Homo sapiens: one gene and its partners. The protein of the gene in region 3 interacts with the protein of the main gene of each other region in a pairwise test. Each region holds a gene or a part of one and is shown on either strand. Other genes may lie near its edges. The genes, in order: TM4SF19, CLEC10A and GIMAP1.

The links.
Region 1: the proteins of GIMAP1 (region 3) and TM4SF19 interact in binary tests that used the Homo sapiens proteins (3 or more experiments, as listed by UniProt).
Region 2: the proteins of GIMAP1 (region 3) and CLEC10A interact in binary tests that used the Homo sapiens proteins (3 or more experiments, as listed by UniProt).

What each region holds. Positions count from the first base shown.
Region 1 is NC_000003.12:196,336,902-196,340,651, reverse strand, and holds the start of TM4SF19 (transmembrane 4 L6 family member 19), read left to right. Parts: upstream 1-2,263; 5' UTR 2,264-2,388; intron 2,389-3,750. UniProt on the Homo sapiens protein: Negatively regulates vacuolar (H+)-ATPase (V-ATPase) activity by interacting with members of V-ATPase V0 complex and hence inhibiting V1-V0 complex assembly. Required for multinucleation during osteoclast differentiation.
Region 2 is NC_000017.11:7,078,412-7,082,161, reverse strand, and holds the start of CLEC10A (C-type lectin domain family 10 member A), read left to right. Parts: upstream 1-1,910; 5' UTR 1,911-2,110; intron 2,111-3,276; 5' UTR 3,277-3,349; coding exon 3,350-3,416; intron 3,417-3,750. UniProt on the Homo sapiens protein: C-type lectin receptor involved in recognition of N-acetylgalactosamine (GalNAc)-terminated glycans by myeloid antigen presenting cells (APCs).
Region 3 is NC_000007.14:150,714,671-150,718,420, forward strand, and holds the start of GIMAP1 (GTPase IMAP family member 1), read left to right. Parts: upstream 1-1,942; 5' UTR 1,943-2,020; intron 2,021-3,750. UniProt on the Homo sapiens protein: May regulate lymphocyte survival. Required for normal levels of mature T-lymphocytes and mature B-cells.

The DNA of each region.
Region 1 (3,750 bases), on a different chromosome or scaffold from region 3:
TTACTCATCAAGGAGATGCAAATTCAAACACAAGGAGATTACACTAAACACCCACCACAATGCCTAAAATTAAAAATGTTTGTGAGAATGTGTAGAAACTGGAACTGTCACACACTGCTGGTGGGTGTGTAAATTAGGACTACTTTGGGAATCTGTTTGGCAATATCTGCCAAAATTAAATATTCACCTGCCCTATGATAGCAATCCTACTCCTAAGAATATTCCCTGGAAAAATTAGTGCATAGTTCCTTCAAAAGACATGCAGAAGAATATTCATAGCAGCATTATTTATAACAGGCAAAAGTTGAAAATATAAATGTCCATTAAGAGTAGAAAAAGTTGTAATATCCAATGTAATAATACTCAGCAATAAAAGAAAAATAAATTACATGATGGATGAATCTTACATATAGAATATTGAGTGAAGAAAGCCACACACAAAAGCCATACTGGGCTGGGCGCGGTGGCGCACGCTTGTAATCCAGCACTTTGGGAGGCCGAGGCAGGAGGATCACTTGAGCCTAGGAGTTCGAGACCAGACTGGGCTACATGGTGAGACCCCATCTGTACACGAAATTAAAAAATCAGCTGGCGTGGTGGCGCTTGCCTGTGGTCCCAGCTACTCAGGAGGCTGAAGTGTGAGGATCACTTGAGCCTATGAAGGCAAAAGGCTGCAGTGAGTCATGATTGTGCCACTGCACTCCCGCCTGGATGACACAGCAAAACCGCCTTTTTTTTTTTTTTTTTTAAAGAAAACTGTTTGATTCCATTTATGTGAAATTCAAGAACAACTAAAACCTAATCAATTATTATAAGAGCCAAAATGAAAGTTAACACTGGGGACAAGGGATACGAATGACAGGCGACACAATGAAACCTCTGGGGATTTGGAATGTCCTGTATCTTGATTTCTGTGCTGGTTCACCAGGGTATACATGTAAAAATTCATCAGACTTTAACATTAAGATTTGTGCACTTTAGGCTGGGCGTGCTGGCTCACACCTGTAATCCCAGCACTTTGGGAGGCGGAGGCGGGTGGATCGCCTGAGGTCGGGAGTTTGAGACCAGCCTGACCAACATGGAGAAACCGTGTTTCTACTAAAAATACAAAATTAGCCAGGCGTGGTGGCACGTGCCTGTAATCCCAGCTACTTGGGAGGCTGAGGCAGGAGAATTGCTTGAAGCCAGGAGGCAGAGGTTGCAGTGAGCTGAGATTGTGCCACTGCACTCCAGCCTGGGAACAAGAGTGAAACTCCGTCTCAAAAAAAAAAAAAAGAAAAGAAAAGATTTGTGCACTTTACTGTATATAATATCTAGATGTTTAAAATGCAATGGGAGCATAGAGAAAGAAGTACCTAACTCGGAGTAAAGAAATCCTGGCAGACTTCACTGGGAATGTTTGAACTGAATCTTGAATAGGAGCTTGTCCATAGAGGGTCACGGATCTCCCACACAGAGAGCACCACAAAATCCTCAGCAATTTGGTGAGAGTATGGTACAAGATGATAGTGGCCTGGGGCTTGAACAAGAGGCTGAGTGCGGTGGCTCACACCTGTAATCTCAGCACTTTGGGAGGCTGAGGCGAACACCTGAGGTCAGCAGTTCGAGACCAGCCTGGCCAAAATGGCAAAACCCCGTCTCTATTAAAAATACAAACATTAGCCGGGCATGGTGGCAGGTGCCTGTAATCCCAGCTACTCAGGAGGCTGAGGTGGGAGGATTGCTTGAGTGTGGGAGGCGGAGGTTGCAGTGAGCCGAGATCATGCCACTGCACTCCAGCCTGGGTGACAGAGTGAGACCCTGTCTCAAAAAAAAAAAAAAAAAAAAGTTAGACGTCTAGTACAGGAACCATGCAACACATCGAGTCAGCCAAGGGCAAGGTAAGGAGAGTGATGAGGAAAAAGGGGTGGCTGCCCTGCTCGGTGCTGTTCTGTCAAAGAGCCGAAATTCTTCGCGGGGTGGCAGATGAGGACAGGAACAGCTGGGGTGTGGCAAGTGTTGCTGCCTGGGGAGAGCGGAGGGTGAGGTGTTTCTCACGGGTGCATCCAGTGACTCATCAGGACAGCGGAGCTCATGAGGCCATGTCTCCCGTTTCCTGCCTTAGAATCACATGAAAATGAGCAGAGGGTGGGTCATCAGGACAGGGCTCTCCGGGGAGCGGAAGCGCCTTCAATGCAGGCCTGTGGGCAGGGGCGTGGGGGCGCGCACACACACACGCCTGGGTGACCTCTACGTATATACAGAGCCTCCCTGGCCCTCCTGGAAAGAGTCCTGGAAAGACAACCTTCAGGTCCAGCCCTGGAGCTGGAGGAGTGGAGCCCCACTCTGAAGACGCAGCCTTTCTCCAGGTTCTGTCTCTCCCATTCTGATTCTTGACACCAGATGCAGGTAAGCAGAGATGAAAGGGTGAGGTGACGGCCAGGGAACAGCCTAGCCTCACAGATGAGAGTGCACGCTTCCACTCCAGTGAGCCTGGCTCTGCAGCTTGGCGTCTGTGTGACTTTGCGCCATTCACTTACCTTCTCCTGTTGCCTCAGTCTGTCAACTTCTGGCCTTTGCACCTAGAATACTCTTCCTGCCTAGTATCTCATCGTCCATCAAGTTTGGGCATGGGCAGCCCTTCCTCCGGGAAGCTTCGTTTTGCTTCTGCCAGATAGGATTAGGTTCCTCCATGTGCTTCCATGACACCTTAAGTTGGATGCCCCTGCCTGGTACTTACTGTTACCAGCTGTGAATCCAGCGAGTCTGCAGCAAACTCAATCCTTGCCTTCTCGGGGGAGAGATTCGGCTGAGGGGCAGAAGTGGGTTTAAGGCAGAGGGAGAGGCTGAAGCAAGTTTGAGAGCAGGAGTGAAGGTTTATTAAAAAGTTTTTGAGCAGCAATGAAAGGAAGTAAAGTACACTTGGAAAAGGGCCAAGTGCGTGACTTGAGACACCCAAATGTGCTGTTAGACCCTTGACTTGGCGCCTGCCTGCCGCACAGGCACTTGGGAGGGGCCGCATGCGCAGTGTGTTTACTGAAGTCGTGCGCATGCTCACTTGAGGCGTTTTTCCCTTACCCGCGGAGCAGCACTAGAGGAAGGTCACACACACCAGCTAAACTCCACCATTTTGCTTCTTAGTGTAGATGCTTGAGCCCACTCGCCCAATTCCTGAGCTCTTACCAGGAAGCTGCTGATCACCAAGTTCAGGTATTTTCTATCTATTGGGAGACTGTCTTTCCCAACGCTGGCTGTGACCAATATTATTTTAGAAAGACAGTGTAACAACCGCCTGGCCATCACCTGATAGTCACCTGACATTACTGGGGTAGAGGCCCTCTCCCGCCCTGCTCATGTCTGCTCTATTTCTTACCACACTTGATTAGAATTACTTTTTGGCCAGCCTGACCCACATGGCGAAAACCCATCACTACTAAAAATACAAAATTAGCCGGGCGTGGTGCATGCCTGTAATTCCAGCTACTTGGGAGGCTGAGGCAGGAGAATAACTTGAACCCGAGAGGCGGAGGTTGCAGTGAGCCAAGAGCATGCCGCTGCACTCCAGCCTGGGCAACAAGAGCGAGACTGTGTCTCAAAAAAAAAAAAAAAAAAAAAAAAAAAGAATTGCTTTTTGCGTCAGCAGTGTCCCCACTAGACTTTAAGCTCCTCAAGGAAAGGGATTACATCTTTTTCATCGTTATATCCCTAGCCCCCCAAGTGTCTGTCAGGTAGTGATCACTTAATAAATATCCGACTGAAGGAAGAATGAAA
Region 2 (3,750 bases), on a different chromosome or scaffold from region 3:
CACACGTATACCTACGTAACAAACCTGCACATTCTGCACATGTATCCCAGAACTAAAAAAAAAAAAAGAAGCTTCAAACCCACTGAACCAGACTGAAAAAAAAAAGTTAGTGAATGGAGAAATATCATGTTCTTTTCATGGAAGATTCAACAATGTCAAAATGTTGATTATCTCCAAATTAATATGTGAATACACTGCAAGACTGTGGTAGACACACAGAGAGCTACCCAGGTCCCCCTTCTAGGAAGGATGTGGTGACCCACTGTGGGGAGTGTAACCTGCAGACAGCTGCTTCCTGAGGTCACACCCATGTCAGGGCTGACTGCCAGTGACCGAAGGAGCTGGTGCTCTACAGGACCCTGTGGCAGTCCAATGCTGGACAGCTCCCGGGGGTGGCATTGTTTGAACCCAGAGCTCCCTGTTGGTTTGGTTGAAGCTCTCCAAAGTGCTGGGCTTCTCCCTCTGCCCAGCACCATTTCATCCACTTTCCTTTTCGAAGTGCTAATCCCTAATAAATAGCTTGTACCCCAAATTCAGCCTCAACCTTGGCTTCCAAAAACCGAACCTGCGACATATACTAATCAAAATACCGAATACCAAATAAAAACAAAACTGGCAACGACCTGGCCGGGTGCGGTGGCTCGCGCCTGTAATCCCTGCACTTTGGGAGGCTGAGGCGGGCAGATCATGTGAGGTCAGGAGGTCAAGACCAGCCTGGCCAATATGGTGAAACCCCTCTCTACTAAAAATACAAGAATTAGCTGGGTGTGGTGGCGGGACCTGTAATCTCGGCTACTCGGGAGGCTGAGGCAGGAGAATCGCTTAAACCCAGGAGATGCAGTAGCCGAGATTGTGTCACTGCACTCCAGCCTGGGCAACAGAGTGAGACTCTGTCTCAAAAAAATAAATAAATAAATAAAATAAAAAAGAAAAGAAAAAGAAACAACTTAAATTTCTGATTTATTTCTGTCAATAGAGAAATGCTAAATAAATAAATTACGGTGCCTATGATGAAATGAGGTGCAGGTAGATCAAGTACATTTTATAAACTGATGTGGAGAAATGTTCCTGATAGCTTGTTAACTCCAAAAAAAAAAAAAAAAAGCACATAGCAGAACACAACCCCATGTACATACAAAATATAACCTAAAATGTATTTCTTCTCCTTCTCCACCTTGTAAGATACTCAGTTTCCTTCCTACTGAAAGGGATGTGCGCGTGGATTCAGGGCAGCTCCCTTAGGGGTTGAGCAGGGATCATGGGATGAAATGGAATCCTGTTCATGAAGACAGCGCCTGTGCTGAGAGCCAGAGCAGGGTGCCAAACTGTCTCCTTACAAGCTGTGAGTGATCTTGGGCTCTGAGCCTTTAGTCCGTCATCCAAAATGCCTCCCCAGGTGCTTGGGGGGAATGGTTGTGGAAGGTAAATGTCTGGCATAATCCTATCACAGATTACTCAATAAAATTTGCTCTTTTCCTTGGCTTCTCCCGTCCTATTAGGGCCAAGAAGTTCTATTCTCTGGCACCCCCTTCCCTCCTTCCGAGTGGAGTGAGGCGAGCGAGGCCACAGCTGAGCAGCCGAATGACTGGGACCCAGAGGATGCTGATGCCAGGGACTCAGGCCAGGATTGAGCAAGAGAACAGACTGGGCTTCTCTAGGATCAGAGGTGCGATGATGGAGACCCAACAATTCTGGGAAATGTAGAGGCAGGAAGTGAAAGGAAGTGTAGGGTAGAGGAGCAACAGCAGATTGTACCTCTGATCCAGCCCTGCTCCCAGATGGTAAAAATGAGGAAGCTCCGAGAAGAGGAAAGGAAGTAGGCATGGCCTGGAGGAGGAGAACAGAGCTGGCCTCAAACCCAACTCTCCCCACCCACACATGGTCTCTGTGTGTTCTAATCCCTGTTCATTCTCATTTACTGTCTAAAGTTGAGGAGATGGGATGTCCCAGATGATAGGGCTCCTGGGATTTCAGACCCAAGACCAGCAGGACTCCAGTCACCTCTACCCCAGCTCTCCAGGACACAGCGCTCCCAACTCTGAGTGACGTCCCACCTCTGGTCCTTGCAGCACAACCAACGTGGGAATCACACCCTCCAGACCTCCCACAGGTAATGGTGCTGCCGGTGCCGGTGAGACCCAGGGGACAGGGGATGTCAGAGGAAGCAGGGAGAGGGGGACTTTGGGTCTTGGGTGGGACTAAATGAAAATAAATATAAGGCGGCAGTGTGGGGTTTAATTACTACGTGGAGATTTGAGACTCTGTTCCCTTCACTGGATTCTAGATTGGGTTACGGCAGCCACAATCCCCTGTCATAAACTAAGACTCCGGGAGCTGAGGCAGGAGAATCTTGTGAACCCAGGAGGCAGAGGTTGCAGTGAGCCGAGACGGCCTCGTTGCACAACAGCCTGGGCGACAAGAACGAAATTCCATCTCAAAAAATAAATAAATAAAAATAAAAATAAACTAAGACTCAGACTCAGCCTCATTGGTGGCCCATTTCCAGCCTTATCTTCATCTCAGCCCAGCCATGCCCTAATCCCAATACTAACCCCAGCTTCTACATTTTCTTTTTTTTTGAGACTGAGTCTCACTGTGTCGTCCAGGCTGGAGTGCAACGGCACAACCTCGGCTCACTGCCACCTCTGCCTCCTGGGTTCAAGTGATTCTCCTGCCTCAGCCTCCCAAGTAGCTGGGATTACAGGCGCACACCACCACACCCAGCTAATTTTTGTATTTTTAGTAGAGATGGGGTTTCACCATGTTGGCCAGGCCGGTCTCAAACTCCTGACCTAAAGTGATCTGTCTGCTTCGGTCTCCCAAAGTGCTGGGATTTATAGGCGTGAGCCACCGCACCTGTCGCCCCCCACCCAGCTCCTACTTCAACCCCAACCCCAGAATCAACTTGAATTTTAACACCAGCCCAAAGCCAAAATTGAACCTCGACTCTATTCTGTTTCCAAATTCACCACCAAAGTTAACCCCAATTCCATCCATGGCTCCAACGTGCATACTGACCCCAATCCTAGCATGAGATACAACCTCCAGTCCTGCCTGATTAACTGGCCCACTGGGTAGTCCTAGCAATGCGTTTAGCTCCAACGTTACCCTCCAGTTTCACTCCCAAACTCAACTCGACCCCAATTCTAACTCGACTGCAAACCCAGGCTCATTTCCGTCTTAACCCTGGGCTCATTCTCAACCTGAGCCTCATCTCCCAACTCAACGTCAGCCCTGCCCTTGGCTCCAACTTAGTCCCAACCTCCTATTCCCCAGCTCCACCCCAGACTGGGCGCCGGCCCTGCCTCCATTTCAGCTGTGACAACCTCAGAGCCGTGTTGGCCCAAGCATGACAAGGACGTATGAAAACTTCCAGTACTTGGAGAATAAGGTGAAAGTCCAGGGGTTTAAAAATGGTAAGAGGAAAGGGGAAACTCTCCTAAAATGCCCTCTTTATATGTTTAGAAGGATTTCTCCTATCATTTCTGTACCTCCACCACGCGCACTGGTGGGTCCTAACTCTGAGGAGGTCAGGCCCCAGCCTCTGACGGGCCTAGTGTGAAGAGGATGCAAGGTCTCTAGAAAGACTGGGACAGGGAGGATCACAGTGGACCCAGCTTCTGATGCTCTGTGGGGTGGGGATGAGAGCTGCGCATTGGTGGAGGGAAAGATAAGTAGTTGGGTTTGGAAGGAAACTCATTTGTGAACCTGATTGTCCAGCAGGTAGGTGAGCATAAGCCCATGAAGGGC
Region 3 (3,750 bases):
GGACTAATACATTTTCTTCACTGCATTTATAAGGATACGGAAGAAAACAATGAACATGCAAAGACTGGAAAGAGAGGAAGGAAGCATTAATACAGGGTACAAAAGGAAGCCGGAGTTCTAGATATAATTCTGAGACTCAAGTGTAGTCAGGGTCTGAGCTTCACCTGGGTTTCCACAACTGATAGTAAGTATCAATGAATAATAATAGGCAACAAAGCCCAGAGACAGTGAGACATAATCAAGAGCTAATAGAAATGTAGAGGAAAATAAAGACAGAAACGGTTACTTTTCAATAGGAAGAAGATCCCAGAAAGCACCAGTAGGAAAGTGGAAATGTGGGACGGGAAGGGATAGTAGCCAATGCAAGTTGCATTAATGAGCACATTACCACTGTATACGGTGATGAGGATGTTCCCACTGCAGACAACTGGGTCTCAGTCCTGCTGGGGACTCAGCAATTTGTATGCAGTACATCACAGAGTTGTCTCACGTGGTGGACAACTTGATAAGTTGTGGTGTTTATCCATAAGTCCTAACTGACATTGATTGAAATCTGCTCCTAGGATATCAGCTCTGACAACTTCAGGCTGCTGCATGCATTACCTACATATACTTTTGTAGTCAGATAAACCCTCTGACAGAGAGTTATGAGTGGCTGAAGTAAGACATCATACACATGCATGGAAACAATAAATGGCCCGGAGCTGTTGAAGAGGCTCTGAAAGCGTCTTTATGAAAGGTACACGTCAAGTATCAAAGACTTATTCAAAGCTGATCTATGTGGCTTGGGCTAGGATGAGGCTAGTGAGAAGCCCTAGGCACCTCACTCTTAAGAAAACACTCACTCCCAGGGTCACCCACCTACAAGATCTGCACTTGGGTGACCTGAGAGTGAGTGCCTCCTTAAGCTGTGTGCTCTAGATGCCCCACCTGCCTCACAATAGCCCCAGCCCTGCCGGTCTACTGGGAGAATGACAGGCTCCCTGTTTCAGCAATGATGAATGGAAACAGTGGACATGTCAGATATCCAGGAGACTCTGTGCCCCCAAAAAGATGGGAAACAGTAAAAGCTGGGTCTCTTCCCTACCAGAAAAAAAGTGGTCTGGCATGAAAGAGGTTAAAAAGCAGATCCTATCCAGTAGGGTAAGACTCGGGTTATTGTCTTCCCCATATACTCCAGAAAGCCAACTCCAGAAAGTTTAAATGAGTTAGGTGAGGTCCTATAGCTGGTTAATGACCTAACCAGATATGCAGCCTGCTCCTCTGTAGCCTTCTTACCACCCAGTGATTCGCTTTTTTGCTGACCTCATGATGCTCTTGAGAGAAGATAGAATAACTAGAACTGGTGATACCAACATAGACGACTAGACTAAAGCCTCCTAATAAGGCTAAATTGAAGATAGTGCGAAGGTGTTCATCCTCAACATACCAGTTCACCCTCAAGTCCTTCAATAGCTGGGAAAGCCCTCCTCTCTCAGAGAATGATAAGACTTTGCCTTCAGGTTTTTCTGGCAGACTGGATCTGGGGCTGGCACTGGCCACATGAATGTCTAATTAATGGACAGATGATGAGAACAGCTATTACGTTATTTGTTCCGGGGCAGGAGACTCTCTGGGCCTATTTTATATGGGGAAATGTCCCTATAGGGCAAAGGCAACTGAAGATTAGCTCAGTAATCAATTTTAGAAGTACAGTCAGGCCTCAGAGACTACAACATCCCTCCCTTCTTAGAGCATGGCAAGATATTTGACATCATGAGGCCCTGCTGGAGACACATAACCTCAGTCACAGCAGAAAGTAGAGTCGGTAGGAGAAGTATTGCCAACCCACAGCTCAATGGGAAATGTTTCTGTCTCTTTAAACCATAACCATGGGGCCCACCCTGAGCTTCCTGATTTCTGAAGTCTGAGTGATTTCCTCCGTGTGCCGAGAGGAAACAGCCTTCTGCACTCACAGCCGAAGGGAAAGCAGCAGGTTGGGGCTTCTTGTGGCCAACTTCAGAGCCTGTCACCAGGAAAGGTGAGCCTGAGCCTGGGAGTGGCGGGGGCTGGGGGTGCTCTGAGAACCAGAAAGAACATGATTCCTAGAGTGTTTACTGCCTGAACACTTGCATTCTACAAGGCATCATGCAGGCGAGCAAGATCTGGAACAATCAAGGACATACTTCCAGGTTTTTAAGTAGGCAAAGTTCAGAGGAAATTTTAGGATCATCTTCTCCAGCTCTGGAGCACACACGTTCTTGGTGGGGAGTGAAATCTGTCTCCTCCCACATTCCCTTAACAAAGTAAGAAAAGAGTGTGCTGGAACCACCTCCAGGAATAAAATACAGTTTGAAAGGCATTAAACATTCCTCAAGCTCCCTATTGAGCAAAGGCAAAAGATATTTCTATGGCCCCATAAGCCATCTAACCTCGGAGTGAGTTACGACGTGACAAGACTGGGTACATTTGAACTCTCCTCCTCACTGTCCACAGAAGGGGCCCCTGAGGAGACATCTGAGATTAATATCTTGGTCTTCAACCCCTTTCCCTGCATGGCCCCTTAAACATCTGCTCCCTTAATTCAAGCTTCTCCTGCTCCAGCCACGGGGACACCTCAAATTCCCATCTGTACAATAAAGGGGGTTGCAAAAATGACTGATGTCCAAGTTCTGAGCTGTGGACATCAGAAACATTTAATTCATGAATCAGAATCTCAGGATGGATCCAAGAGATGTACATTTTTAAAGAACATTCAAGTAATTCTGAGAAGCAGCACATTTGAGCGGTGAAGAACTCAATAAACTTTGCGGTCTCTTAAAGTGTTAGGAATACAGGATTCTATAAGTGTACATTCCTCAATGATTAAGGGCCATTTGTCACCTCAGAGTTCAGCTGGGTCTTACTTTCCTTTAAAAAAAAAAACTATTTAAAATCATTTCAACCCCTCTTCTAAACTATGGAAAATTCCAAAGGCCTATCCAGAATTCTGCAGCACTGGAAAAAGAAATTCTCATTTTCTTGGTTGACAAGGACATTTTGCTTCATCTAAATTCTTTTCTCTGAATCTTGCAACTGTTTCTTCATTTCTGCTTTGATGTCATTTATGATCATCTGTTCATTCCTACATGCAAAATAATTAATCACATAAGGCCCATGGAGTGAATTTTATTGAAGGCTTTGGGGAGGGCCAGTAGAGTTCCTGCAGAAACAGAAACAGCTCTAGATTTAATATGAGGCAAATCTGTTCTCCAAGTCCTTCAATCAAAGACAAGTTACTCAGCCAGCCTCTCTCTCTGCCCCTCCTTCATGTGTGGTGCCAATGGGAGAGAACACAGGTATCCAAGTGACCAGGGTGCAAGACACAACAAGTTTGACATGGATGGTGAGGCACAGACAGATGGTCGGGGAGGATCAATAGTCCTAGGAGGGGAAGCCGAGTGGGTTGGAAAGGCCCTGAAATCTGCTGATTGTGAAGTAGCTGACCGAGTGGGGTATTGTCTGGGAATGAGGCTGGAGACATAGATGCAGGGAGAAGTGAATTTGTGTTCAGGAGCTTGTGTGATTAGGCAAACTGGATCACAGAGGGTTTAGCTGTATTACACAATGTTAGATTTCAGCATAATCACATTTGGAGGGGAAGCAACTTCAGGAGTTGAAGGGAAGTGTTCAAGTCTCTCCAGCACAGATATCGTATTTAGACATCTCTAAACAAACCAAATTATTTGATTTTAAGAAAACAGAGTTAGGGGCCCTCCAGATCTACTTGGG